2 separate regions of the Homo sapiens genome follow, and region 1 is linked to region 2. Evidence: fine-mapped expression QTL. A gene starts in region 2. The other region holds a variant in brackets. All regions are shown on one strand. Distances are between the middles of the regions. Region 1 holds the start of MRPL53 (mitochondrial ribosomal protein L53). Region 2 holds the start of LBX2-AS1 (LBX2 antisense RNA 1).

Evidence for each region.
Region 1: its variant is fine-mapped to the expression of LBX2-AS1 in whole blood (TOPMed, PIP above 0.99).

What each region holds. Positions count from the first base shown.
Region 1 is chr2:74,461,105-74,477,449 of GRCh38, forward strand. MRPL53 (mitochondrial ribosomal protein L53) reads right to left here and starts at 11,576. Exons shown (of 3, transcript NM_053050.5): 1 at 11,465-11,576; 2 at 11,254-11,366; 3 at 10,878-11,148. The coding sequence starts at 11,556. The coding sequence ends at 11,015. CCDC142 (coiled-coil domain containing 142) reads right to left here. Exons shown (of 9, transcript NM_001365575.2): 6 at 14,508-14,622; 7 at 14,121-14,298; 8 at 13,812-14,011; 9 at 11,728-13,698. The coding sequence ends at 13,442. It overlaps MOGS (mannosyl-oligosaccharide glucosidase), which reads right to left and starts at 4,278. Exons shown (of 4, transcript NM_006302.3): 1 at 3,792-4,278; 2 at 3,392-3,618; 3 at 2,086-2,282; 4 at 1-1,908. The coding sequence starts at 4,143. The coding sequence ends at 171. RefSeq lists silencers at 3,845-4,064, 6,258-6,552 and enhancers at 10,985-11,114, 11,515-11,614. The variant C/T (reference allele first, on the strand shown) is at 8,864.
Region 2 is chr2:74,495,286-74,506,110 of GRCh38, forward strand. It overlaps LBX2-AS1 (LBX2 antisense RNA 1), which reads left to right and starts at 7,308. Exons shown (of 2, transcript NR_152616.1): 1 at 7,308-7,667; 2 at 8,355-9,780. LBX2 (ladybird homeobox 2) reads right to left here and starts at 4,318. Exons shown (of 2, transcript NM_001282430.2): 1 at 4,048-4,318; 2 at 2,232-3,033. The coding sequence starts at 4,252. The coding sequence ends at 2,642. PCGF1 (polycomb group ring finger 1) reads right to left here. Exons shown (of 9, transcript NM_032673.3): 5 at 10,667-10,772; 6 at 10,452-10,485; 7 at 10,267-10,353; 8 at 10,054-10,134; 9 at 9,758-9,905. The coding sequence ends at 9,858. RefSeq lists enhancers at 2,615-2,664, 7,216-7,840, 7,841-8,466, 7,937-8,231, 8,138-8,207.

The sequences.
Region 1 (16,345 bases), 31 kb before region 2:
ATTCACATTCACCCCAGGGCTATGTGGGATGACAGCAAGGAGACACCTGAGATGAAATGAGGAAGGTTTGAATTACTGGTATCCAAGGGGCTGGGGGCAAAAGCCAGAAGCCTTTGTCCCTTCAGAGCCAGAGTGGCATGAGTGTCTTGGCTCCCCTCCTCTCCCTCCCTTCAGTAGTCTTCAGCCATGGCCAGTAAGACAAGGCTGGTCCAGCCGTGGAAAGGGCGGCAGCCCATGCCTCGCCCATCGCGGTCACTGTACTGCTCCCAAAGAAAGCCTGTAGCCTGGTACTGGCGCCATACATTGCCTACCACGTTGGCACGGAGCTCACCGTGGAGTTTGGCAGCCCGAGCCTGGTGAGGACCCTCCAGATGCCCATAGTGGTGGAGTGCTCCCAAAGCCAGGTAGTTGACATTGAGCCACACAGCACCCCGCCAGTAGGGGGGATCATGCTCTGAATTGCGCTGGCCATAAAAGGAGCTGGAGGCTGCAAGGGAGCGTAAACCAAAGGGGCTCCAGAGATGGCGGCTGTCGGCTAGAATGTCCAGCAGGGGCCCAAGGCGGGATGAGGTGGGGTCCAGCAGTCGCAGCAGCAAGGGAAAAAGACTGACATAGCCAAGAGCATCTACATACTGCAGTTGAGGTTGGGGCCGACCCACCACCCGAACGAGCCCCTGAGGGGGCCTGGGCTTCAGCTGTACTGCTTTTGTGTGGTTCCCAAAGTCTGCAAAGACTCCTAGCTCTGGGGCCCAGTGCAGCTCATCCAGGCTCTCTGCTGCCTCCAGTGAGGCAGCCAGTGGGCCCAGCTCAGCAGCTACCTCAGCCTCACCCAGATGCTCTGCCAGCCGCGTCAGCACACGGGCACCCAGTGCCACCCAACATCGCAGGTCCAGGTGCCGCTCGGTTACTGAAGGGTGTGAAGCCCGGGGGTAGTCATCCAGCCCAGAGGGTAGGGTCTTGGGGTTCAGTAAGGTTGGTAAGGCAGGGTCCCGTCCCCGCCAGCGGTAAGATAGTGGCAGTGGGCCTGCCTGGCTCTGATGGAGCCAGGAAAACCAGGCATGCAGGCGGGGCAAGGCCTTTCGGAGGAAAGCCAAGTCGTCAGGGTCACCAACCTCTAGCATATGGGCTACAGGCAAAAGTAGGGTTGGGGGGTTGGCGTGGACTGCTCGTTGTACTAGGAATTCTGGAGGCACCCGGGCTCGGGCCTCATCCCCCAGTATCTGCTCCCTCCCAATCCAGCCATCAGCATTTAGCAGCCCCAGCCAGTGGCCAAGGGCTTCCCGGGTGAGGGAGGGATCCCACCGCTGAACCACCAGCTGGTGAAAGCCTTCATCCCAAAGGAAGCCTCGTGGGAAGAATGACCGGGAGGGCACTGCTGTAAAAAGAGGTACGGGTGGAAAGAGGGCTGGGTCCACCTTCTGCTCAGACCCTTCCACCCCGATGTCTGGCAATACCAGCCCTTGTCCGTAGAAGTAGCCAATTCCACCAAGGAGGCCGCTGAGGGCAGCCTGACCCAAAACCTGCTCGCCAGAGCTCAGGCCCTTCTCCTTCAGCTGGAAGGTCTTCTCAAAGCGCTCTCTAAAGCCTTCAGCATGGCTCTCCAGGGCCTGGGTCAGTAGACTGCCTGCCAGTCTTGGCAGGGCTTGATTTCCTCCTGCCTGGGCACTGCCTGATTCAAACACAAACTCTATGGAAATGGGAATTTTCAGGGTCACCTGCTGTATCAAGAACTGCCCCTGCCCTTGCCCACTTGGACCTCTGTCCTCCCACTTCAGGGATCCTGGCAAGCCGAGGTAGCGTTCAGGGGGGGCCCCTGGGGGCCGATGCTGAAACCAGCTATTTAGGCGACTCTTTACCATCTCTGTCAGCAGGGGCAGTCCTGGGTTGGAGGTCCAGAAGACATTGTAGCTTGAAGGGGAGAAGATAAATAGGAAATATTATTCAAGAGAAGGCAGTGGGCATTATAAAGAGAAATACAAAGTGTTCAGGAGTCAGGTTGGGAGGTCTCAGGCAGGGGACATGGAGACTGGTGAAAATGGGAATAACCACCCCTTCCATCCCCCAACATTCTTTTCCCCCAGTTACCTGCCATACTTGGGGGCTGTATCCCCTGGACTGGTTGGTGGCAAAAGTGTAAAGCGGAAGTCACCAAGTTCACTGGTGTGCCCACTGATAAACTTCAACTGCCCCTTGGCCCCAACCTCTGGTAGTAGGACTTCCTTGCCATCTGTCACCACATAGAAGAACAGGGAGACCAAAGGGAGGGCAGAAGTACCTGAGTCCTGAGTGACCAACGAGGACAGAAAAGAACAGTGTTAGATTGGCATTCTCTCTTGAATTCCCTCTTGAGAATCAGCCTTAGTGAGGGAAAGGAACAGTAGGCAGGGGTAATGTAAACAACATACGTCTGGCAGTAATGAGGGTCACTGAGGGTAACCAGGTACACCCAAGCGGGATGAGATAAAGAGCCTTGCACTGGGTGCCCTGGGAGATAACAGTATACTTTTGTACTATGTCCTACACTAAGAACTCTACACAGTTGATTTCATTTAATTCTTTTTTTTTTTTTTTTTTTTTGAGGCGGAGTCTCGCTCTGTCGCCCAGGCTGGAGTGCAGTGGCGCGATCTCAGCTCACTGCAAGCTCCGCCTCCCAGGTTCACGCCATTCTCCTGCCTCAGCCTCCCGAGTAGCTGCGACAATAGGCGCCCGCCACCACGCCCAGCTAATTTTTTGTATTTTTAGTAGAGACCGGGTTTCACCGTGTTAGCCAGGATGGTCTCCATCTCCTGACCTCATGATCCGCCCGCCTCAGCCTCCCAAAGTGCTGGGATTACAGGCGTGAGCCACCGCGCCTGGCTTTTTTTTTTTTCTTGAGATGGAGTTTTGCTCTTGTTGCCCAGGCTGGAGTGCAATGGCACGATCTCGGCTCAGCGCAACCTCCACCTCCCTGGTTCAAGCAATTCTCCTGCCTCAGCCTCCCAAGTAGCTTGGATCACAGGCATGCGCCACCACGCCCGGCTAATTTTATATTTTCAGTAGAGACGGTGTTTCTCCATTTTGGTCAGGCTGGTCTGGAACTCCTGACCTCAGGTGATCCGCCAGCCTCGGCCTCCCAAAGTACTGGGATTACAGGCGTGAGCCACCGCGCCCAGCCTCTTTTTCATTTAATTCTTACAGTCCTGTGAGTTAAGTGCTATTATTATCTACATTGTACATTTTACAAGCAAGGAAATCAAGGCTTAGAGATGGTAAATAGAAATGGTTATACAGGCAGTTGTTTAAGGCAGGATTTAAGCCAGGCAGCCAGAGCCCACTTCATGCTGCATTTGCTGGCAGCAAGGGAAGGATGGAGGGGGTCTGGGCTGAGAAAAGGGTGTCCTGAGGCCCTGACCTGAGGCTCTACAGTCACTCTCCAGCTCCAGTCCCCTCCGTGCTGACCCCCAGGCCTCTTGACGAACTCAGTGGTGAGCCTTAAGGCCCCATCCTGGATGTGTTGGCGCCCGAAGGAGAGGCCGTCGTGGAACTCCCAGCCATAGGGACCCACACCGTCCCCCTGCTCACACGTGTGCCTGAGCTTAGGAGTCCCCGGGGTGGTGCCCTGCTGCGCCCACATCAGTCCTGGGGGTAGAATGGCCACGTAAGTCAAAGAGCAGGGGACCTGTCCCTCCGGGTCTCCGGGTCATCCCTCTTCATAACTCTCCTGATCCATTCCTTCCCACCCTTGCTCTCGCTTCAAGCTGGGGCGCCCAGATTAGGAGTCCGCCTGCCTGCCCGCCCTGGGGCCCGGTTACCGGTGAGGAGGGGCTTCGGGCTGCGGGTCTTCATGCCGAAGTAGACGTGAGGGCGGTAGGTTCCCCAGAAGAGGTCCGGGGCCACGGCGGGGCTGGAGGAGTCGGCAGGCAACACAGGAGGCGCGGAGTGCAGCGTGACCGCCCGCCGCGCACGGTACCACGCCAGCACCCAGCGCCCCGACATACCCAGGGCCAAAGACAGGACCACGACGGCCAGAGCCACTCCTCCAGCCGTGCTACGCGGCCCGCCGCCCCGGCCGTCCCGTCGCCCGGGGCCTCCCCGAGCCGCCCTCTCGGCTGTCCGCACTCCCTCTGCCGGCACTGCGCGGCGCCGCCGCTCGCCCCGAGCCATCCTGGCACTGAGGTCCGCGTCACAAGAGCTCGGAGAGGCGGCAGTGGAGCCCGGGTCCTGCCTCACCTCTCCGGCTCCCGCCTCTCGCCCTGGCGACCACCGTCCGGTTAGCGACACCTGCCAGCCAGCGCCTGCGCCTCCGCCTCCGCCTCCCGCCGGAAGTCCCGCCCCGCCACGTTAGGTTAAGTCCCAGAGTCCGGAACCGCTGCCTGCGGCTTGACACAGGGTTGGTACGTAGCGTCTGTCCTGGGCGTTGGTCCACCGGGATTGCGTTTATCTGGCGACCCCATGGAGTTCACAGGCTCGGAAAAACCAATCTAACGTTGGGCTGAGGCATGAGAATCGTTTGAACCCGGGAGGCGGAGGTTGCAGTGAGCCGAGATTGTGCCACTGCACTCCAGCCTGGGCGACAGAGCGAGACTTCGTCTCAAAAAAAAAAAAAAAAGACTGATGTGGCCAGGCACCGAGGCGCACATCTGTAATCCCAGCACTTTGGGAGGCCGAGGCAGGTGGATCACCAGACATGAGGAGTTGGAGACCAGCCTGGTCAACTTGGTGAAACCCCATCTCTACTAAAAATACAAAAATTAGCCGGGTGTGGTGGTGGGTGCCTGTAATCCCAGCTATTCGGGAGGCTGAGGCAGGAGAATTGCTTGAACCTGGGAGGCGGAGGTTGCAGTGAGCCGATATTGCGCCATTGCACTCCAGCTTGGGCAACAAGAGTGAAACTGTTTCAAAAAAAAAGAAAGAGAGAGAGAGAGAGAGATGGAGGGAGGGAGGGAGGGACGGAGGGAGAGAGAGAGAGAGAGAGAGAGACTGATGCTTTATGCAACACGACCACTTATATTTCACTATAATCTGACTGGTGGCCCCACTCTCCACTAGTGGTAGACTTTTTGCTTATGAAATCATCTGACCAAACCCAATGGTTAGTCCTGTTTTTGTCTTTCTTGCTACCGTTGCATTTGTCGACATCCTTATTGTAGCACTTATTACATACCTGTTTCATTTTTCATCTTTGTATCACAGTACTAATCAATTATAGGCATAAGGCAGATGCTAAATATTTATAAATTCAACACATGTTTATTGTACACCCTATATCGCATTATGCAAGGTGCTGGGGACTCAGAGAAAATGGCCCCAACCTCAAGTTCACAGTCTAGAAGCACAATGCCAGCACTCAATGCATGTTGAACCATACCCATTTTTTTTTTTTTTTTTTTTTTGAGACGGAGTCTCGCTCTGTCACCAGGCTGGAGTGCAATGGCATGATCTCGGCTCACTGCAACCTCTGCCTCCAGGGTTCAAGTGATTCTCCTGCCTCAGCCTCACGAGTAGCTGGGATTACAGGTGCCCACCACCACGCCCAGCTAATTTTTGTATTTTTAGTAGAGATGGAGTTTCACCAGGTTTGCCAGGCTGGTCTCGAACTCCTGACCTCAGGTGATCCACCCACCTCGGCCTCCCAAAGTGCTGGGATTACAGGCGTGAGCCACCGCGCCTGGCCAGACCACCCCCATTTTTACAGATGAGGAGAGTAGTTAAGACTGACCCAAAATAACAGCCAGTTAATTATGGAGCTGGGGAACTCAAATCCAGGTTGTTCTTTTGACTTTAGAATAAGGCCTCTTAGGGCAGGCGCAGTGGCTCAAGCCTGTAGTCCCAGCACTTTGGGAGGCAAAGGCGGGCGGATCACCTGAGGCTGGGAGTTCGAGACCAGCCTGACCGACATGGAGAAACCCCGTCTCTACTAAAAAATACAAAATTATCTGGGCATGGTGGTGCATGCCTGTAATCCCAGCTACTCGTGACACTGAGGCAGGAGAATCACTTGAACCCGGGAGGCAGAGATTGCAGTGAGCCAAGATTGTGCCATTGCACTCCAGCCTGGGCAACAAGAGCGAAACTCTTGTCTCAAAAAAAAAAAAAAAAAAAAAAAAGAATAAATAAGGCCTCTTAGATAACAGCAGTTACTACACTCCCAGCAATGTTTTAGGTACTTTACAGATATTAATTCATTTAATCTCCTTAACAGTCCTATGAGAAAAGTACTATTATTTTCATTTTACAAATGAAATAAGCACTGATAGATTAAATAATTTGTCTAAAGTCATACAGCTACATAAAAACAAAGCTAGGATCTCAACCCCAAGCAGTCTGGCTCATTACAACACTATACTGCCTCCTCCTAGCTTTCTTTTTTAAAGGGGGAGGGGAAAAACGGTCCTTTGAAGATAGCACCCTTTTAGACCGGGAAAAGGTATAGTAATGCTGCTGTAGGAGGGTCGTGGGAAATGTATCTGGCAAAGTACACAGCAGGCCACTGTCTACAGATCTTTTGTTACCTAGCTGAGCATTGTGAAGGTGTCTAAAGCAGTGGCTTTCAACCATTTTCCTACAACTCACAATAAGAAATAATTCCATAGTGCAACCCAGTATGTGCAGATACACATACACACACAACTTATTTAAAACAAGTTACCTAAAAGAATACTTTTAGCTGGGTGTGGTGGCTCACGTCTGTAATCACAGCACTTTAGGAGGCCAAGGCAGGAGAATCACTTGAGTTCAGGAGTTCTAGACCAGCCTGGACAAGATGAGGAGACCCCCCCATCTACAAAAAATTTAAAAATTAGGGTTGGCCGGGTGTGGTGGCTCACGCCTGTAATCCCAGCACCTTGGAAGGCTGAGGCGGTGGATCACCTGAGGTTAGGAGTTCAAGACCAGCCTGGCCAACATGGTGAAACCCCGCCTCTACTAAAAACACAAAAATTAGCTGGGCATGGTGGCACGCGCCTGTAATCCCAGCTACTTAGGAGGCTGAGGCAGGATAATCACTTGAACCCGGGAGGCAGAGGTTGCAGTGAGCTGAGATGGCACCATCGGCGACAGAGCAAGACTCCGTCTCAAAAAAAAAAAAAAAAAAAAATTAGGGCTGGGCACGGTGGCTTACTCTTGTAATCCTAGCACTTCGGGAGGCCAAGGAGGGTGGATTACTTGAGGTCAGGAGTTCCTGACCAGCCTGGCCAACATGGTGAAACTCTGTCTCTACTGAAAATACAAAAATTAGCTGGAAATCGCTTGAACCCAGGAGACAGAGATTGCAGTGAGCTAAAATCGTGCTCCACTGCACTCCAGCCTGGGCAACAGAGCAAGACTCCATCTCAAAAAAAAAAAAAAAAAATTAGGCCAGGCATGGTGGCTCACGCCTGTAATTCCAGCTGCTTGGGAGGCTGAGGCGGGAGGACTGCTTGAGCCCAGGAGATGGAGGGTGCAGTGAGCTACGATTGTGCCACTGCACTCCAGCCTGGGTGACAAAGCATGACTTAATCTCTTTAAACTTCCTATTCTAAGTGCCATGCAGTCTGATTTTTTTTTTTTTTTTTTTTGAGATGGAGCCTTGCTCTTGTCAACCAGGTTAGAGTGCAATGGTGCTATCGGCTTACTGCAACCTCCACTTCCCGGGTTCAAGCAATTCTCCTGCCTCAGCCTCCCAAGTGGCTGGGATTACAGGTGCCCGCCACCACACCCGGCTAATTTTTTGTATTTTTAGTAGAGATGGGGTTTCACCATGTTGGTCAGGTTGGTCTTGAACTCCTGACCTCAGGTGATTCCGCCCACGTCGGCCTCTCAAAGTGATGGGATTACAGGCATGAGCCATTAAACTCAGCCTCAGTCTGATAATTTTTATTCTATTCTACTTTTTTTTTTTTTTTGAGACAGAGTCTCACTCCATCAACCGAGCTGGAGTGCAGTGGCATGATCTCCACTCAGCGCAGCCTCCACCTCCTGGGTTCAAGTGATTCTCCTGTCTCAGCCTTCTGAGTAGCTGAGATTACAGGTGCCTGCCACCACACCCAGCTATTTTTTATTTTTTTATTTTTAGTAGAGACAGCGTTTCATCATATTGGCCTGGCTGGTCTCTAACTCCCAACCTCAAGTGATCTGCCCGCCAAAGCCTCCCAAAGTGCTGGGATTACAGGCATGAGCCACTCCACCCGGCCTACTTTTTTTATTTTATTTTATTATTATTATTTTTTTAAGAATGGTTTAGGCTGGGTGCGGTGGCTCATGCCTGTAATACCAGCACTTTGGGAGGCCGAGGTGGGTAGATCACCTGAGGCCAGGAGTTCGAGACCAGCCTGACCAACATGGAGAAACCCCCTCTACTAAAAGTACAAAATTAGGCATGGTGGTGCATGCCTGTTATCCCAGCTACTTGTGAGGTTGAGGCAGGAGAATTGCTTGAACCCGGGATGCGGAGGTTGCAATGAGCTGAGATTGTGCCATTGCACTCCAGCCTGGGCAACAAGAGCGAAACCCTATCTAAAAAAAAAAAAAAAGAATGGTTTAACTCCCTAAATTGATTGCATGGTCCACACTAATGAGTGTTGAGGAAGTATGAAAAACAGTTTAGGCAATGTTTTTTCTTTTTTTGAGACGGAGTCTTGCTCTGTCACCCAGGCTGGAGTGCAGTGGTGCAGTATCGGCTCACTGTAACCTCCACCTCTTGGGTTCAAGCAGTTCTCCTGCCTCAGCCTCCTGAGTAGCTGGGATTACAGGCAACTGCCACCACGCCCGGCTAATTTTTGTATTTTTAAGAGATGAGGTTTCACCATGTTGGTTGGGCTGGTCTCGAACTCCTGACCTCATGATCCACCCACCTCGGCCAAATCCCAAAGTGCTGGGATTACAGGCATGAGGCACCATGCCCGGC[C/T]GGCACTGTTTTCTTAAACAGGGAGTAGTGAGAGATAAAACCCATCGCATGTTTTGGAAGGATAAAATTAAGTGGCAGCAAAAATATTTAGGAAATAGACTGGGTAGCAGAATGCAATAATGATGAATAGAGTGAATGGGAATGGAGAGATCACTTCAGAAGTTTTGTTTTGTTTTTGAGACAGTGTCTTGCTCTGTCACCAGGCTAGAGTGTAGTGGTGCAACCACAGCTCACTCTAGCCTTGAACTCTTAGGCTCAAAAGGATCCTCCTGTCTCAGCCTTCTGAGTAGGTGGGACTACAAGTATGAGCCACCTTGCCCAACTTTCAGGCACTTTTTTAAAAGACAGAATATTCTGAACTGAGTGACCAGATATGCAGAGAATGGAAAGGAACAGAACTAGAGAACACTGGTTTCCAGCCCAGGTGGCTGAGTAGATGAAGTGCCTGTTTTTAAAAAGGAATGGGTAAGTCAGGGAAGAGAGGCAAGTATATGTGTATGTAAGATTATCAATTCTATTTTATACAAAGAGAGTTGGTGGGATTTGGAGGAAATTGGTAGCAGGTAACCTGATTATAGCATAGAAGTTGGGATTAGAACCAAACAGAAATAGTTTAACCCCAGAAGGTGTAATTCAAGTTGTGAAAGAGGATGAGATGCCCCAGAAAAAAATAGAGAAGAAAAAGAATGAAGGTAGAACACCTGTGTGGTTCAAAAGAAAAAGGACCCAAGAGGGAGAGAAGTTCCACAAATGGGTGAATTAAGAGTTGCAGGCCGGGCACAGTGGCTCATGCCTGTAATCCCAGCACTTTGGGAAGCCGAGGGGGCGGATCAGGAGTTTGAGGACAGCCTGGCTGACATGGCAAAGCCCCATCTCTACTGAAAATACAAAAATCAGCCAGGCGTGGTGGCACATGCCTGTAATCCCAGCCACCCAGGAGGCTGAAGCAGGAGAATCACTGGAACCCGGGAGGCGGAGGCTGCAGTGAGCCAAGGTCACGCCACTGCACTCCAGTCTGGGTGACAGAGTGAGACTCTATCTCAAAAACAAGAGTTGTAGATGCGGCCAGGCGTTGGTGGCTCACGCCTGTGAACCCAGCACTTTGGGAGGCCGAGGCAGGAGGATCACTTGTGTCCAAGAGTTAGAGACCAGCCCGTGCAACAGGACAAAACCCCACCTCTATTTAAAAAAAAAAAAAAAAAAAAAAAAAAGATGGAACTGGGATACAACGATGAGAGCTGAAAAAACAGCACTCTGTTAGTGTTTTTGTTTTTTTTTTTTTTTTGAGACAGAGTCTCACTCTTGCTCAGGCTGGAGTGCAGTGGTGTGACCTCAGCCTACTTCAACCTTCACCTCCTGGATTCCAGCGATTCTCTTGCCTCGCTCGGCCTCCCGAGTAGCTGGGATTACAGGCTTGTGCCACCACACCCAGCTAATTTTTTTGTATTTTCTAGTAGAGGTGGGGTTTCTCCAAGCAGGTGATCTGCCTGACTCGGCCTCCTAAAGTGCTGCGATTACAGATGTGAGCCACCACGCTCAGCCTATCAGTGTTCTTTCACACAAGATTTGGTAAAAGTAAGAGGGCTGGGCACAGTAGCTCACGCCCAACACTTTGGGAAGCCAAGGTGGGAGGATCACTTGAGCCCAGAACTTCAAGACCAGCCTGGGAAACATAGTGAAAACCCTTCTCTACAAAAAAATTTAAAAATTAACTAAACGTGGTGGCGCGTGGGGCGTGCCTGTAGTCCCAACTTCCCAGCTACTTGGGAGGTTCGGCTAAGCCCAGGTTACAGTGAGCTAGAATCATGCCACTGCACTCCAGCCTGAGCGACAGAAACAGACCAGTCAAAAAAAAAAAAAAAAAAAAAAAAAAAAAAAAAGAGGTACCTTGAGTGAGTGGTAGGAGAAGCCAGAAGCCAAATTCAAAAGGGTTAAGCAGTGAGTGATAGTAAGAAAGTGAAATAAATTCAGGTTCATCCAGACACCTCTCTGATCTAGTCTTGTTCCAGAAACATTGTGGTAGCAGGGTTTTAAACTTTATTTTGCGCTCCGTGACCCTTCAGATAGTGATTTGAATGATTAAGTGAAACTCTTCTTAGGTTAAGTGTCCTAGTCCACGCTAAAATCATCTTGTTGGTCTCTTTGGCGCTGTCAGCGACCAGTATCAGCGCCCGGCTTGTCCCCGCTGCCCGCCGCGTCCCTGGCCCGGATGTGGGAGGCGAAGGCGGTGAGCATTTCCAGAGCGGTGAGATGAGCGCCGCGCATAATCAGGCGATGCCCGTCTCCTGGGGAAGAAACAAACGAGTGAGACAGGGAGGGACCGCAGTGCTGGGGCTTAGGGGCGCGCGGGCTGCTCGCTGTTCCCTCCTGCCCGTCTCCACCAAGCCCACCGAACAGCACGTCCACGCAGGGCTCGGAGCCGTCATGCCTCACGTCCGCAATCACTGAGCAGTTGAGATTAGTGGAGCGGACCTTCTCACTGCTCACCGTCTGCAGGAAGGTCCTACGGTGGAAAAACAGAGGAGCGCCAAGCTGAGGGCTTAAAGCCCCGGCTGAAGGAAGGCGCACCACTTCCCGCTTCTACCCACTTCCCCTTCGTACCTCGTCGATTCCACGTTTTTCTCGAAGGGACAGAACTGAACCCGAACCTGTTTGACAGGCCGCAGACCAAGCCGAGCCAAGGCAGCTGCCATGGTGACCTCCGCCCCGGAAGAACTCGTGCAGGCGGAAGTGTCGCATTGCGTGAGGCCGTGAATGGCTGCGCTTCTGCGGGATAGACTTCCGGCCGCCGGCTGCTTAGCAGGCCTGCGAACCGCAGCTCTGGGCTTCCTAGCCCAGGCGGAGGAAGGCAGGAAAGAAAGAGGTGGTTTCGGCACAACGCATGGGGGAGCCCAAAGTAGGCTGTCAGCAAATACAGCCTATCATGAATAGTCCTCTCATACGACGGTGAAAACCATAAATAAATGGCGCAAAAACCTCTTTGCACGAAAATACGCCCGTTTTCTGCAGCCTTTCCCCTTCTGTACCCTGCTGGGCCACATCTAGGCTAACTCGATCTTAAATCCTGGCTTCTTCCAAAGAGAGAGCACTAACACAAGCCGGGATGATCCACACCAGAAGGTAAACACCATTCAGGTAACTGAAGATTAAACGTAGTGAGCTCTGAATAGCCAAAGCTTAAACGTGAAAGTACTACAGCCCAATATTAGTAAATGACTGAAAATAGTAATAGGAAGGGCAGTACAGGGTAATACTGTCCTTGGGGCTGATCCAGGTATAGAAATGCCTATTAAACCTCTGTGGTTCTCCATGAATTAGCGTAGCTCCCAGGACTTAAGTTGAAGTGCATTCTAGCCAGTTTTCTTTTTTTGAGACGAAGTTTTGCTCTTGTTGCCCAGGCAGGAGTGCAGTGGCGCGATCTCGGCTCACTGCAATCTCTGCCTCCCGGGTTCAAGCGATTCTCATGCCTCAGCCTCCTGAGTAGCTGGGACTACAGGCGCGTGCCACCACGCCCGGCTAATTTTTTGTATTTTTAGTAGAGGCGGGGTTTCACCGCGTTAGCCAGGATGGTCTTGATCGGACCTCGTGATCCGCCCCTCTAGGCCTCCCAAAGTGCTGGGATTACAGGCGTGAGCAGGCGTGAGCCCCCTCACCTGGCCGAGCACTCAACTCTTTATCCCTGAGATATCTTCAGTGATGGAGAACTAGGCCTGAACCTCCCAAGGGTCTGACCTTCAGGTTCCAGGCTATGGTCTTGCTCTTTACTCTGGATTCCAGGTGCTGGAGTGATCTTGGATTTTTTTTTTTTTTTTTTTTTTTTTTGAGACGAAGTTTTGCCCTTGTTGCCCAGGCTGGAGTGCAATGGCACAATCTCGGCTCTCCGCAACCTTCGCCTCCTAGGTTCAAGCGATTCTCCTGCCTCAGCCTCCTGAGTAGCTGGGATTACAGGCATGCGCCACCACACCTGGCTAATTTTGTATTTTTAGTAGAGACGGGGTTTCTCCATGTTGGTCAGGCTGGTCTGGAACTCCCGACCTCAGGTGATCCGCCTGCCTCAGCCTCCCAAAGTGCTGGGATTATAGGTGTGAGCCACCATGCCCTGCCTAATCTTGGATTTTTTTTTTTTTTTTTTTTGAGACAGAGTCTTGCTCTGTCACCCAGGCTGGAGTGCTGTGGCTGGATCTCAGCTCACTGCAAGCTCCGCCTCCCAGGTTCACACCATTCTCCTGCCTCAGCCTCCCGAGTAGCTGGGACTACAGGCACCCGCCACCACGCCCGGCTAATTTTTTGTATTTTTAGTGGAAACAGGGTTTCACCGTGTTAGCCAGGATGGTCTTGATCTCCTGACCTCATGATCCGCCTGCCTCGGTCTCCCAAAGTGCTGGATTACAGGCGTGAGCCACCTCGCCCAGCCCCTAATCTTGGATTCTTAAGCCCAGGCTCTTTGTAGCTTATTCTCCAGTATGCTTTCCTCCAAGCTTCCAGTTCTGGGCTTCCTTAATATGCAATTCCAAATGTCTGGATTTTCCAGCTAGAGATGGGGAGCTCTTAACTTTCTGGCTCCTGGTCCCAGGCTCCTTAGGATTCAGGACTGGTTCCCAGGCAGGAAAAAAACGGCAGGTGCCAACGGGGTCGCTGGTGTTGCCTGAGGGCAAGCCAGGCCTGCTGATTTCCCACCAGGTAGCCCTCCGGGCTAGGTCCCCTTCCTCCTAGTGTGCTTTGCAGCTGACCTGTCTGGGCTGGAGATGTTCCAGGCTGGAGCGGGGGCTCCAAGCTCTCCAGGCTATTGAGGCAGCTGCTGGGCAATTTCGTGGTCTGGACCTCCTGACAAGCACCTGGTAAGGCAGGAGTGGAAGGTAGGTGGCTGCTGGGGATATACTGAAGCCAGATTAATGGTGAGAATAGGGTTTGGGACACACAAAGCAGTGAGCGAAGGGGAGTAACTCACAGCAACAGGGGGGCCTCCTGTGGACTTGAGACTTGGGCAGGGGCTGCTGCAACAGACACAGCAGGGCCCCATCCAGCTGCTGGAAGATGCTGAGCATGAGCAGGGTCTGGCGGAGATCAGGGGACAGGCTCCACTGCTCCTCTTCCAGCAACTCCCTGACCACTCCAAAGTCTTGTTTGAGCTGCAGCGCTCCCTGCAGGCTGAAGGCAGAGGTACAGTATGGCCACTTGACCCTCCTGCCTCTCCCACTTATCCCCTTCCTTTTCCCAGTTCCATTCACCCCCTGCCACTTCCACCTTTACTCCTGACCTGAACCGAATCCCATGGGTAAGAATGTGGTCAAGCCAGGCACCCACGATGGCCGTCAGAGCCTGACCAAGGGCAGGGGCCTGGGCTTGAGGTGGCAACCCTTGCAATCCTTGCAACACAGGCTCCAGTACGGTGCGGACCACTAAACCAGCATACTCACTAGGAGCACTGGGAGGTTCTGGAATAGAGAAGACAGAATATAAGGCTGTGGAGATCCATTGAACCCCTAAATGGAGTGTTTGGGAGAAGAGGGTAGGATTTCAGGAGGGAAGGGTACAGAAGCTGAGGACAAGGATGGAGACAGTGGAGGGGAACCGGAATTTGGAAGGGCTGAGACACTATTACCCCCTTGGAACTCTGGAAGGAGAAGCTGGGATGAGGAGTTACCAGGACAGAGACGAAGCCGCCAGTACCGACCCCGTGGCATGTAGAGCTTGAAACCTTGCATGGCTTGTTTATGACATTCTTGAGAAAAGACACTTAGTGACTCTTCAGGCAGGAGCTGTAGGGATAGGGAGAAAGTAAAAGGGGCTTGTCAAATTATGATGATCCTCTATATCTAAGGAGCTCTATGTCCAACTTGACATCCATAAAACCCCAGAATTGTTGCATAGTTGTGTATGCCTGGCCATTTTTTGAGGAGCAATGCCATAGTTGTCATTGGGTTTTCCAAGAGGTCTGGACCCAAATTATGAACAATTGCCCTAGGATTACCTTGCTCTCCCCAGCTTGGTTCAAAAGATGGAAAATCCTTGAGGTTAATTTTACTATACAAGAGCTTTAAGGAAAAAGAAAGACATACCCTGCCCCCACCCCCGCAACACACACACACACACACACACACACACACACACACACACACACACACACACACACACAGAGCATATGCCAGAAAGAGGGATTGTATGATCTGCAATGGGCAGAAATTGAGGGAAGAAAGGGGAATTACAACGACCTTTTATTTTTGAGGCAGAGTCTTGCTGTGTCGCCCAGACTGGAGTGCAGTGGCGTGATCTCGGCTCACTGCAACCTCTGCCTCCCGGGTTCAAGTGATTCTCCTGCCTCAGGCTCCCAAGTAGGTGGGACTACAGGAGTGCACCACCACACCCAGCTAATTTTTGTATTTTTAGTAAAGACAAGGTTTTGCCATGTTGGTCAGGCTGGTCTCAAACTCCTGATCTCAGGTGATCGGCCTGCCTCTGCCTGCCAAAGTGCTGGGATTACAGATGTGAGCCACTAAGCCACTACACCCAGCCTACAATGATCTTTTGGTTATCACCTACAAAAGGAAGACAAGAACTGTATGTAAACCAGAAGCAATGACTATTTGAATGTTCTGAGACTCAGGAAGTTTTGGAATGTCCTTACATTGAAAGGCATTATTATATATTATTATTCTTCACAGCCCACTCCAGAGCAATATAACCCATAAAGCAAGAAAAGGCCTATATGCTGGGTTTGTTTCTTTGGTTTGATAGGTTGTTTTTGGAGGGAGAGAACACAGCAATAAAGCTGGTTTCTGCTCTACAGCCCATCTTGAGGGAGAGGAACCCCAGTAAATGTGGTTAATGGCAGCTGCTCTGTAAAGAAATGGTAGATGCCAGGGAGCCTGAAGACAGGATAGACCTGGGGGCGGCCAGACATGGAGTGGAGCCCATATGGCTCCTGGCACATCTGACAACCTGTCTAAATCCAAAATCTTCCTCTCTTCTCCAGTAAATGCAAGCCCCCTTCTCCTCCCTTATTTATGTCAAGGAAATTGCCCTTTTGTCAACGGACTTTTGTTAGGAGCCTCTGTACTCAACACTGAGGGAATACAAGGTGCAGAGTGTGTGACAGTCTCTCCCCCACCCACTGGGATCTTATAGTCCAAACAGGAAGAAAACTCACAATGCCTCTTTTTTTTTTTTTGAGACCAAGTTTCGCTCTTATTGCCCAGGCTGGAGTGCAGTTGCGCAATCTCAGATCACTGCAACCTCTGCCTCCTGGGTTCAACCGATTCTCATGCCTCAGCCTCTGAGCAGCTGGGATTACAGGCACCCGTCACCATGCCTGGCTAATTTTTGTATTTTTAGTAGAGATGGGGTTTTACCATGTTGGCCAGGCTGGTCACAAACTCCTGACCTCAAGTTATCCACCCATCTCGGCCTCCCGAAATGCTGGGATTACACCCTTCTGCTCTTAAAATGTCACCCCCTCACTTATGAGGTAAAGCGCAAATTGTT
Region 2 (10,825 bases):
TAATTTGACTGGACCCTACCTTCCTAACTAGAAGGATTTGCCCTGAGAGTTCTTTGCTCACCCCTGGTTGGGGAGCAGGATGGGCATAGGTGGTTGTGTTTGTCCAAGGGGTGATTATATTACAGTGGTTCCATAAGAGGCCTGCCCATCTGGCTTTCCTGTTTTTGAGCAGGGACCTGCATGCTTTTGGGATGTCTGTAGGGCTCCTGACCTCTCAAAGGCCACCCACCACTACTCAATGGTATTTTTGCCTTCCAGCTGAGCTGGCTCCTTGTTCTAGCTTCTCAAGTAAATGTTCCCTCCCCAGTACCTTAGCCTGCCCTGGACTTGTAGCTTCTCCAAGAGTCACGTGACTCCTGACACTTTGCCCCATTTTCACCCTCCTAATTAATAGGGGTCTGACCCAACAGCCTGAGTTCTGAGTTCCCAGGACTGGAAAGTAGAGTGACCAACCATCCTGGTTTTCCTGGAACTGAGGGATGTTCTGGAGTGAGGGACTTTCAATGCCAAAACTTGGAAAATGCTGGGCAGATGGGAAAGAGTTGATCACCCTACTGGAAATGTTCCAGAGAGGCAGTATTTAGAAGGGAGTACTGAAGGGGCAATGCAGTTGCAAAGAATTATTTTTTTGCATATGCATAATGGCTGACAGATTCTTAGCTCCACACCAGTGGTCACTGTCTGTTTCCATGTTGCCATTTTTCTTCCAGTTGCCCACATTTGCTAGGTTGTCATTGACTCATGCAATCCTTGATCCCTGGGGCAATCGCAGATTCCTCTTCTGTGACCACCTCCCAGCCCCACCTCAAGTCTGGCCCTGAGTTCTCTCTGCTGTTACCTTTTGCAGTGGCCAGATATATACTCCCTTTTTCAGGTCTCTACCAGTCTCTGATCCAACCTGCGCCCACAGCCAGATTGGCCTACCCTAAACAATGGTCTCTTGTCTCTCTTCTCTAAAACCTCCAGGGACCATGCTCTAAAGTACAATGCCTAAGTCCCTACCTGTGGCCCTTTCTCCTCCCCTTTCTCTGTAAATCCTTTGCTTCTTTCCTTTAGGCTCAGTCACCTTTATAGAGACCAAGAGCATGGGCTCCTGAGTCGGACAAGCAAACAGCTCAGTCCCTGTGCCACCACTTACAAACTGTGACCTGGCCAAGTTTCCTCAGGGTTCTGTAATTCAGTCTCATCCTTAAAATGGAAAGAAAAGTCTCTGTCCTGTTGGGTTATTTTAAGGATTAATACCTGCAAAGCACTTGGAACTGCTTAATAAGTGGTACTGTCTGAAAATGCCAGATTCCCTTCTGCCTTCCAGCCTTGTTCACTTTCCAAGGAATATTCTCTCTTGGGCCCTCCACCTGCAACTAAGGCCCTAGCTGACCCCCGTTGAACCCATGGAACTTCCTTGAAAGTAGGGTTGTCACACTTAGGCAGAGGCAGGAGAAAGTCTGAAGAGAGCCAGAGGACTGACAGGAGAGAAGGGAAGCAGGAAAGACAACTGAGCTTGATCTGAAGATTGGCTGGGACCACTGGGGAGGGGAAGGCCTGCAACTACTGAGCGTTCCCCCTCCTCTCCCCTCACACTGCAGGAGGGTGATTATCACCAGTGGAATAAATGAATGTCAGAAATGTCCACTGGCTGAGTTAGGCTGGAATCCCTACCAGGCAAGGCCACTACTCCAAGCTTCGCCCCAGCAGGCCAAGCCTTTCCACCCTCTGGCTGCTGCCACCATCCTAGTGGTAAAATTTCTGGCCCAGGGGCCTGGCAGAGGTCTTCCAGGTAGGGGTGTGGCCTCTCTGGGCACCCGTCTATTTGCCTGTGTCCCAGCGGAGGGTTCTTTTGGCAGGATGGGGAAAGGGTCAGGAACCCATTAACAGGTGGGGAAACAATGTCATCACTCTGGGGCCAACCTAGGGATTAGAATCAAGGTCTCCCAGGCAGACAGTAGGTGGGCCAAGGCCCCACTGTCTTTCACTCAGGCCCGGTGACTTCCCCTTGGTAGACTGATAAGCATCAGCTCTGAAGGCTGGCTGGATGCTGGGTCCAAAACCTGACCTCAGGGTTCTGACTTTGTAAAAATGGTGTAATTATTACCTACCTTAAAGGGTTGCTATAAGGGCTAAAGGAAACATTGCATTGAAAGCCCTGGCACAGTGCCAAGTGCGGACTCCCCATAGCACTTTACAGATTTTACTGTTTCTTGCTTCTGGCGGGCGTCTGGATAGAGGCATGGTGCGGCAGAGTCTCGACTTTATTCTCAAATATTGGGAAAGTAGCCTGGACAACATAGCGGGACCTCCTCTCTAAAAAAAAAAGTTTTTTAAATTAGCCTGGGGTGGTGCTGCACGCCTGTAATGCCAGCTAGTCGGGAGGTTGAGGCAGGAGGATCGCTTGAGCCCAGGAGGTCGCGACTGCAGTGAGCGGTGATCGCTCCACGGCACTCCAGCCTGGGCGACAGAGCGAGGCCCTGTCTCAGACAACAAAACAAACTTACAAAAAAACCGGGAAAGGTGAGCGTCTGGACTGTGGGCCGGAAGAGGCCCAAGTGGACCTCCTTCCTCCACCCTGGAACTCTGGCCAGAGGCAGAGCGCGAGGTGAGGAGTCCAGGGCCCCAGAGCCCAGGATTGGCGGCGGCTTTGTCTTCAATCGTCCACCTGTATCTCCTCGTCTGACAGGTGGGGCCGGGAGTCAGGGCCGGCAGGGCCGAGGCAGAGGCCGGGATCTGGAGCGCCTTCGGGCAGTGCTAAGCTGCACAGGACTTCCGGGGACAACGCGCGTAGCGAGGCGACGTCGGCGCGCATCTCCTCCACATCGCGCTTGAGCTTGGCTCGCCGGTTCTGGAACCAAGTGACCACCTGCGCGTTGGCCAGGCCGAGTCGCGTAGCTAGCCCGTCTCGCTCGGACGGCGCCAGGTACTTCTGGAAGACGAAGCGCCGCTCCAGCTCCAGCACCTGTTGCGCGGTGAACGCAGTGCGTGACTTGCGCCGTTTGCGGCCGAAGGGACCAGGGCCCAGCGCGTCCGGACCTGCCCGCCCTGTAGGGATAGGGAGGGGGTCAGTTTCCAGCCTCCGGGAATCAGGCTGGGCCTGGAAAGAAAAGTTGGGGGTGGGGTCGGGCCGGTGGCGGTGGGGGAAGTAGAGGGAGAGCCAGGAAGGCGGACGGAGACCAGAACTGTGATCCCTTATCGGGAGTCAGGCCCAGGTGGGGATATGGGGCGCAAAGCGGGCTGGCCACAGGGGTGCGAAAGGCAGCAGGCTGAGGGCATATTGTAGGGGCAAGGAAGTGAAGGAAGGGAGGGATGATTCAGAGGTGCAGGGTCAAACCTTCTGGGGTGGAGCCTTTGAGGCTTTTAGGAGCCTCAGGCTGAGCAGGCTATAAGTTGAGGGTGACATCAGAGGCGAGTAAGAGTCAGGGCAGCCGACCCAGCGTGGTGGTGGTAACAGGACTTAGATCATGCCCTTCCATGGATCGGGTCGGGCATTCGGTTTACAGTTCCTTAGTGACACCAGAGCCCGCTCCTCCGGCCCCAAAGGGAGATAATGAGGTACAGAGAGCGAGAAAAGGCAGAGTGCGGAATCCCGCGCCCAGTGCTGCGCCAAGGGCTTTCTGCTCCTTGACTCCCCTCGAGAAGAGAGTGGCTTGGAGCGGAGCTTGGTCACCCGGAAAGACTCGACTCTCCAGCGCTTTCTGTGCCGCCTTTGCAGGCTCACTCGTTTACCGCCTGCGGCTGAAGCCTTTTGTCTCTTTCTCTCCTGCCTTTCTCTATCGCGATTGCCCCGCCTACAAGGAACAGAGCAACAGGTCGCTCAGTTGGCGACGGTCTGCCCTTTTCCCTTGGCACTGGCGGCCTTCCGGAGCCGCCGCGGAACCTAGGGACTAACGGAGGAGAGGTGAGAAGTCGCAGGTGCGAGTCCTGGCACGTGGGCTGAGGACAGGGGAGGATTAGGGTGGGTGGCCTGGGCTGGGACAAAGGTTTGAGACGGGGAACCAGGAGGAGAGAGGTGAGGAAAAGGCTAAGTCAGAGTCCGCGACCTTGCCGGCTCTATACCTTCAGAGGGCTGCAGAGCGCGCGCGTCAAGTCCGCGGAAAGTTTTACTAGTCAGCTCCTCCAGCGCGCACAGCGGCGACGTTGGACCCGGACCCGACTCTGGAAGCTGCGGCGCAGAGGGTGCTCGGGGGACCATGCGCGGGGCTAGGATGTCTGCGATGCTTAAGAGTGTCCGGGGTGTTCGGGGCTCGCGTCCCGAGTTCATGGTCGGCCGGGCTGGGGCGGTCCGGCTGTCCGTTGCGCTAGGCTCCGCAAACGCCTGGGCCCCAGTGCTCGGCTCCCAATCCGGGCCCCCAGCCTCGGACCCGCCCCCGGCTCTGGGCCCGAGTCCCGTGTGCCCCTCCTCCTGCGCCCCCACCTCTCCACCCCGGGCCGCGGTGGATCTGGAGCTCCTAGATGTCCGGGGAGGGTATTTCTACAGGCTGGGGCAGGCGCGGAGAGCAGAAGCCGACCAAACTACCCACCAGAGCAGGGCCACGGGGCTGCTCCGCGCTGCGGGGCGCTGCACCGTGCACAGTCAGGCCGGGCCATACCTCCAGACGCTGTATGCCGCCGACTCCCCGCCTAGCCGCCGCTCCGGCTCATAAACTAGTAGACGATAAAATTGCCTTCTCTGGCCCCAGCGGCTGGGGATTTGCAAAGTTCTGAGGAAGGCTATCAGGGCTGACTGTGCTGGGATCTCTGATCCCAGCTAGGACCTCAGTCTCCTAACCTGGCTCCCTCTTCCCCACCCCACCCCTGAGAAACGTTGTTTCTGGTCCTGACGGCTGGAAGTGATTAGTGCTGCATGGGTCGGGGGCGCAACACTTGGGAGGACCTGGCCTGGCGGAGCGACTGCAACTGGGAATAGTGGGGATGCCACGAAGAAGCAAGCACAGGTGAATGGACCCGAGGCTGCCCCACCTGACGAAATCAGAACACACAGAGAAGCTGCCGGGAGACCCGGGCCGCAGGAGAGAAGACCCAGGGAACTCCCAGCTGGTGCAACTGCCCAGGAGGGGTCTTTGTCAGTGAGGACTGGCAAAATCAGTCGATTTTGTCTGTCTTTATCTTCTTTTTATTAAGCTCCCATAGTTCAGGTATGTATGGTTTCCCCAGCCTGCAGAGGCTCAGAAACTGCCAAGGGGAGCAAGGTGCCCTGACCAGAGAGGGGTCACTCCCCATAGAAGAGAGACTTGAAGGGCAGACTTCACGGACCCAGCTGGATCTTGGGACATTCCTGACAACCCAGGTACTAACTGTGAGGCCTGGTATACTCATTCCTATTTAATCTGGGCCCTTTTTATCTGCCACACTTATTCTGGTTCTGGGCTCATACCTGGGTAAGCACCCACAGCCCTCCTTTGTAGGAAGAAGGCAGCTCAGGGACAGTGGGGCCTCAGCAGTTGAGGCCCAGCAGGGTATGGGTTTTGTTCCTACATTCCACCCCAAACAGCTGGAGGATTCACACCTTAGAGCAGGGAAGCCCTGCCACTCCTGAGGAGCTTGCTGCTTTGCTGCCCAGGGAAGTCAGAAACTGATGTGCTTCTAGCTTTTTAAAACAGTGTCAGGAAAAACCAGGCCAGTCCCTCCTGGACTGTCCATTATGTCACTTTCCTTGTAGACCCCTGCATCTCCCACCATCTGTGCAGTGTCCACCTGTCTATTCCCTGGGGCAACTGCTGCATGCAATTGGGGTTCCCTAAACAGGGCTTAGGAGATCCAAGGCACCTGGGCCAAAGACTCCTTGACAAAGATGGGAAGGCACCTTGATAGGGTCTTCTTGGTAAAGGGCTCACTCCAACAACCCCCCTCCCCCACCCGCAACATTCACATAATGCCCTCCTGGAAAGCTGAGCAACACACTTAAAGGCTGATGGGCCACTGCTGGATCAAAGAGCAGAGCCAGGCCATGGTGGAAAGCTGAGCTGCCTCAGGACGTTGTTAAATGGTTATTAATGGTGAGGGGCAGGGGAGGGCCTGGAGAGATCTTCGGGCTACAGGCCTCAGCCCTGGAAACCATCCTAGTGGTTTCACTTAATGTGCAATAAAGCAGCTCTCTGGAGGCAGCAGGAACTGCCCCACTGCATCCCAGGCATATCACCAAGCAGATGCTGCAACCTTCACTCATGCATCCTCTATGTGGCTTTTGTGTCTGTCTCTACCTCTGCTCTCAATTACTTACGTGTGTCTGTGAGGAGTGTGGAGCTCTGCTGATGGGCCTGTGCCTCACAGCCCCTTCCATCTCTCCCGCCTAGTTCTCCCCTCTGCAGCTGGGCTCAGGTACTGGGATTGGACAGCTCCTAAACATGAGTTTGGGGGAGGAGATGGAAGTGGAGAGTAGCAAAGGGAGGAGGCCCAGGACAGCAGAGGCCCCTCTAAGGTCGTCAAAGCGGCCAGGGACTAGTCCAGGGGATCGTGGGGCCACAGAAGGGGACTTTTCTCAGTACTGGAACTCGAGCTGGGGCGAAATCGGATCCACAGAGAGGGGTAGGAGGGTGAGTGATTAATGAGGAAGATTAAGAGATTAAAACTTGTTCTGGGTTGGGGAGGGGACACTCACTCGGCTGTCCTATAGGTTACCCCCCACCCCAGCTTGGAAGCACAGAAGCTCCTGGGTGCTCGCCTCTTCCCACCCGCGGGTAGAACCCTCCCTGTTCACGATCCTTCTCAAGAGATGCACGGAGGCCAGCCTTCACCGCTGGCCCCGCGGGGCCAACGGTTTTCCTTTTCAGGCAGTCTCTTGTGTTTCCCACCTTCTCAGATTCCTTTGATTGTCCATTCAGACATTTCGGGGCCCTGCGCTCCCTCCCCTTGTAGAGATCCCCACATTCCAAATTCGCTGTCTTGGGAAGGCACCCCATTCCCGCTTAAGGATGCTTCCTCACACCTCCCCTTTCAGATTTCCCATTCTCACCCCTCAGCCCTACCCCCACCTTATCTTGCACCCACACACCCCATCGGCGGGTTCCTCCACCCCGGGCCGCCCCCGCTCGACCCCGTTCCCCACTGGTGGCACGGAGGCCTGCTCAATAAACGACCTTTAGTCTCGGATTGCCGGCCCGGACATTCCACTGAATTCTGTGAATGTGTAGCAGGGTTGGAGGACCCTCGGAATAACCCCCTTGGGGAGGTGGACAAGGACAATCTCAGCGAAGAGCTTGCTCCCCTCCTCCCCACCCTTAGGAAACGTCCGTGAACCGGAGTGAGAGGGCAGTGGGAGTTCAGGGAGCAAAGTCCAGGCGGAGGAGCGTGAGGCGGGGCTTCCGTCCGTCCCGCACACTTCTGGGATTGTTTTCTCTTTCAGAAAGCGCTACTGCGGAGTGAACCGGTCCTTATATCTTAGTTTCGTGACTTTGGGGGCGGCAGGCCTGTGAGTTGTTTTCCGCCCTGGACGCTGTTTTGCAAAGATCTCTGCGCGCCCACCGCCACCCTCCCGGGCGTGCGGGCCGGGAAGCAGCCAGCGGTGGGAAACTCCGACGCCCTCCTCGACACTTTTCTCCCCCCAACTCCCCAAGACTCACTTCTAGGGAAGTCCTTTTTCCCATCAAGCCCTGGGAAAGACTGGCCAGGCTGAGAGAGGGACCCGTCCTCCTCTGTGCCAAAGGCGGGAGCAAATCCTGGTGCTGTCGCCTTTGGATGTGAGTCCTGGAAATGGCGGGGGTGAGGAAGGTGGGCAGGGGCAAGGTTTGGCCCTCAGGCGAGAACCGACGCCTTGTCCCGGAAGCGCAGCACGGCCGAGTGCGTCCGGGGGTGCAGACGGCGCCCTGGGGTGGTCCTGCCGCCACCTCTCCTTTGACTCAGGAGCGCCGCGCCGCGTCCGGGCGCGTTCTCAGTCGCGCGAAGCCAGAGAGGACCCTGGGCGTGATTCTCCCTCCCTGGCACAGACGGAGACCCGAGTGACCCCGGGGTCCGGGTGGGCGTGGGGAATGGACCCATAGACCCGGGACGAGCGGCGCGGAGCCCGCAGCTGGCCAGCTTCAGCCACCTTGGGAGACGCAGTGCAGCTGCCGCTGCTGACAGACAAGACCAAGGCTCGGCTGGGCCCCACCCCAGATCCGGCCTGAGCGCCTTCCGCGCTGCTCGGCCTCAAGGCGTGAGTCACCAAGGGCAAGTCCCGTGACTTGGTCCTCAGGGTCTCCGGCCTCGGCACATTAATCTTCAGACCCGGCTTTTTCGACGCCGAGCTGCCGCCCAGCCCCAATGGCAGGGCCTTCCAGGGAGTCCCAGTCAGACTGCTCCCCAGCTCCCGCAGCTGCTCGGTCCCTGCAAAGCCCCCGGGAGCGTTTCTACTCTCCCCTGAGCCCACGCCATCCCGTCACTCCTAGGAAACTTTTCGCGCAGAAACTCCTGGAGAACAGCCCCGGCCGCCAGGTACTCGCCCGCCCGGACCGCAAAGCCCACAGAGCTTCAATTCGCAGGAAGGGGAGTGGGGAGCCCTGAGCTGGGGTGTTCCTGGAAGAGGTCGGGGAGCGGGGGGAGAGGCATTCCAGGCTGGAGGCCTGGAAACGTTTGGAAGCTTTGCTAACCTTGGAGACCATGTCAGGAAAGAAGCGTACCCAGGCCGTCTGCTGTGTGCCCACCCCGATCCCCATCAGTGCCCCACGCACTCGAGCTCTTCTTCGGCGTCTGCAGCCTCTTCATCCGCGCGGAGAGGCGGAGGTCTCCCGGAAACAGTGTCCGACTGTGGCACCCCAGAGCGTCCAATGCGAGCTCAGGCCTTTCCCGCAAGTCTGGAGTTTTCTTATCCAGTTGAGGCCGCCTTCGCTGTACTCACTCTCTGCCTCCCACCCCATCTTCTGCCACCCGACCTCCATCTTTGATGGTTAGCGCCTTCAGCCCTCAACAGCTTCGCACAACCAACCCCTAGAAGCCGTGGAGTCAGACCGGCCAGGGTGGGACCTAGGTTTTAACTCGGGTTCTGGCTACACACGCTGCGCCTCCATACAGTTTGTCCCAGGTTTGGCAGCAGGCCGGCTACCTTCAGGAATTCTTTGCTTTGGCTTCTGTCTGTTCCTGTCTGTTGGGCAAGTTTCTAGCTACCCCACTGAGAGAACCATAGAACAAGGACCCTGGCATGGCATACAGACAAGGAATGTTTGCTGAATTAATGGAGCTGGTGCCTTGCAGCTTCCCTTTTGTTCCTTGAAGTTGCCCTTGCTCTCCTCCACATCAGCTCCCTCTCCTCCTCAGCTACTTATTCCCCACCCTGGCTTCTTCTAGTCGCAGTCCCCAAGTACTTGCTGAATCCTGTATGGACAGCCTAAGCCTCCATTTCTGACAATTCCTGTGGCCCCACTCCATTTGTTTTTTAGACTTCTCCCTCCTTTTTGTCCCCATCCCCCAAGTTATAAAACTATAATGCAATTCTTTGGATTTTTCTTTAAAAAATCACACTTGTTCAATCCTGCAGCAGCCACTGTCCAACTCTAGCCTTCTCACCACCGCTGAATTAGGAAACCTCCTAAGAGGCCCGCACCCGCACTGTATGCTGCAGCATACAAAGACAGCTGAGAGCTCCCCTCCAGGAAACCTTCCCATCACCAAAAAGAGTGGTGTGGGAGGCCTGGTTTCACACATATAGGGATCCTCTACCCTTCTCCTTTGGCAAGACATTGAGGGCCCATGGCCATAGAGGACAGGCCCTTCTTCACAATGAAACTCAGAGGATTTTTGAAGAAGGCAGGACACAGCATGAGTGTGAGGCAGGAAGAATAAGGCAGAAGAGAGGTGCTTTTTAAAAGTTTTTATTTCAAAAAATAAAGCTGCAGTTCATTTCACATAAATATCTGGGGAGGGAAGGGGAGTGGGATGGGGTGGGGGCTTGGCCCCTACCTCCTCTTCTCTTTCACACTGTATTGTAAAAGCAAAGGGGATGGCTAAGGAGAGAATGAGGAAGTAGTAGTCAGTGGGGAATGTTCTTATATTATTCAAAGGGCCCCTCAGCCCACCCTTCCCCTGAGGACTGTAGGATGGTTGGGGGGAGTCTGAAGGGGGTGTGATCCCAGGGAGGGTGGCCTGGCTTACCTTGCCGAACCAGCGGGAGAGCCATATCTGCTTCATTGTCATGTGATCAGGGAGAACTTCATTGTCAAAAAGGAGCTGCACCTAGGAGGGAGATGGGGGCATAATTTTAGGAACTTTCTGGCAGGTCAAAAACTACCCTGGTCCACCCTAGACTCTGTCCCTCCTTTCTTAGCCCCTTCTCCCCCTCAAGAAACCTACTGTGGGACTACTCACATGCTGAGGGTTTAGCATCAAGCGGTGACACAGGACCCTCCGGAGATGGCGTACCTCAGCTCTAACAGAACATCGGACATACTTGTTCTGGGAGCAGGGAGGGGAGGGAAGAGGGCAAGGTGTGTGAGGGAAGGACCATGGGAGGTGAGTCTCCTTAGAGAGGCCCTCCCCTCAGCCCTTCTCACCTGCAGGACGCTTTTATTCTTGTCTTTGCCAGAACTGGGGGGAAATAGACACAGGTTAGGGAATCCTATCTTTCCTCCTCTTCCCCACCCAGAGCCATGATATACTCTCTTCAAGGGGATAGGCACTCACTCACTGCTCAGCCTCTCCCCTAGACCCTCCCTGGCTCTGGGTCATTGGCACTGTCACCTCCTGCAACCCCTGACCTTCTCCTCACCTCAGCCGCTCCAGGCACAGGTTCAACTGCTCATCATAGCGATAGTAGTGGGCTTTAGAGTGGTCAAAGCTGCTGAAGGGGAGGCCGAGGTTGCTCAGTGCTGGCTCTGAGAAAGATAGGGTAGTGAGGTGGCTGGTGGCACACATTCCATACTCCTCT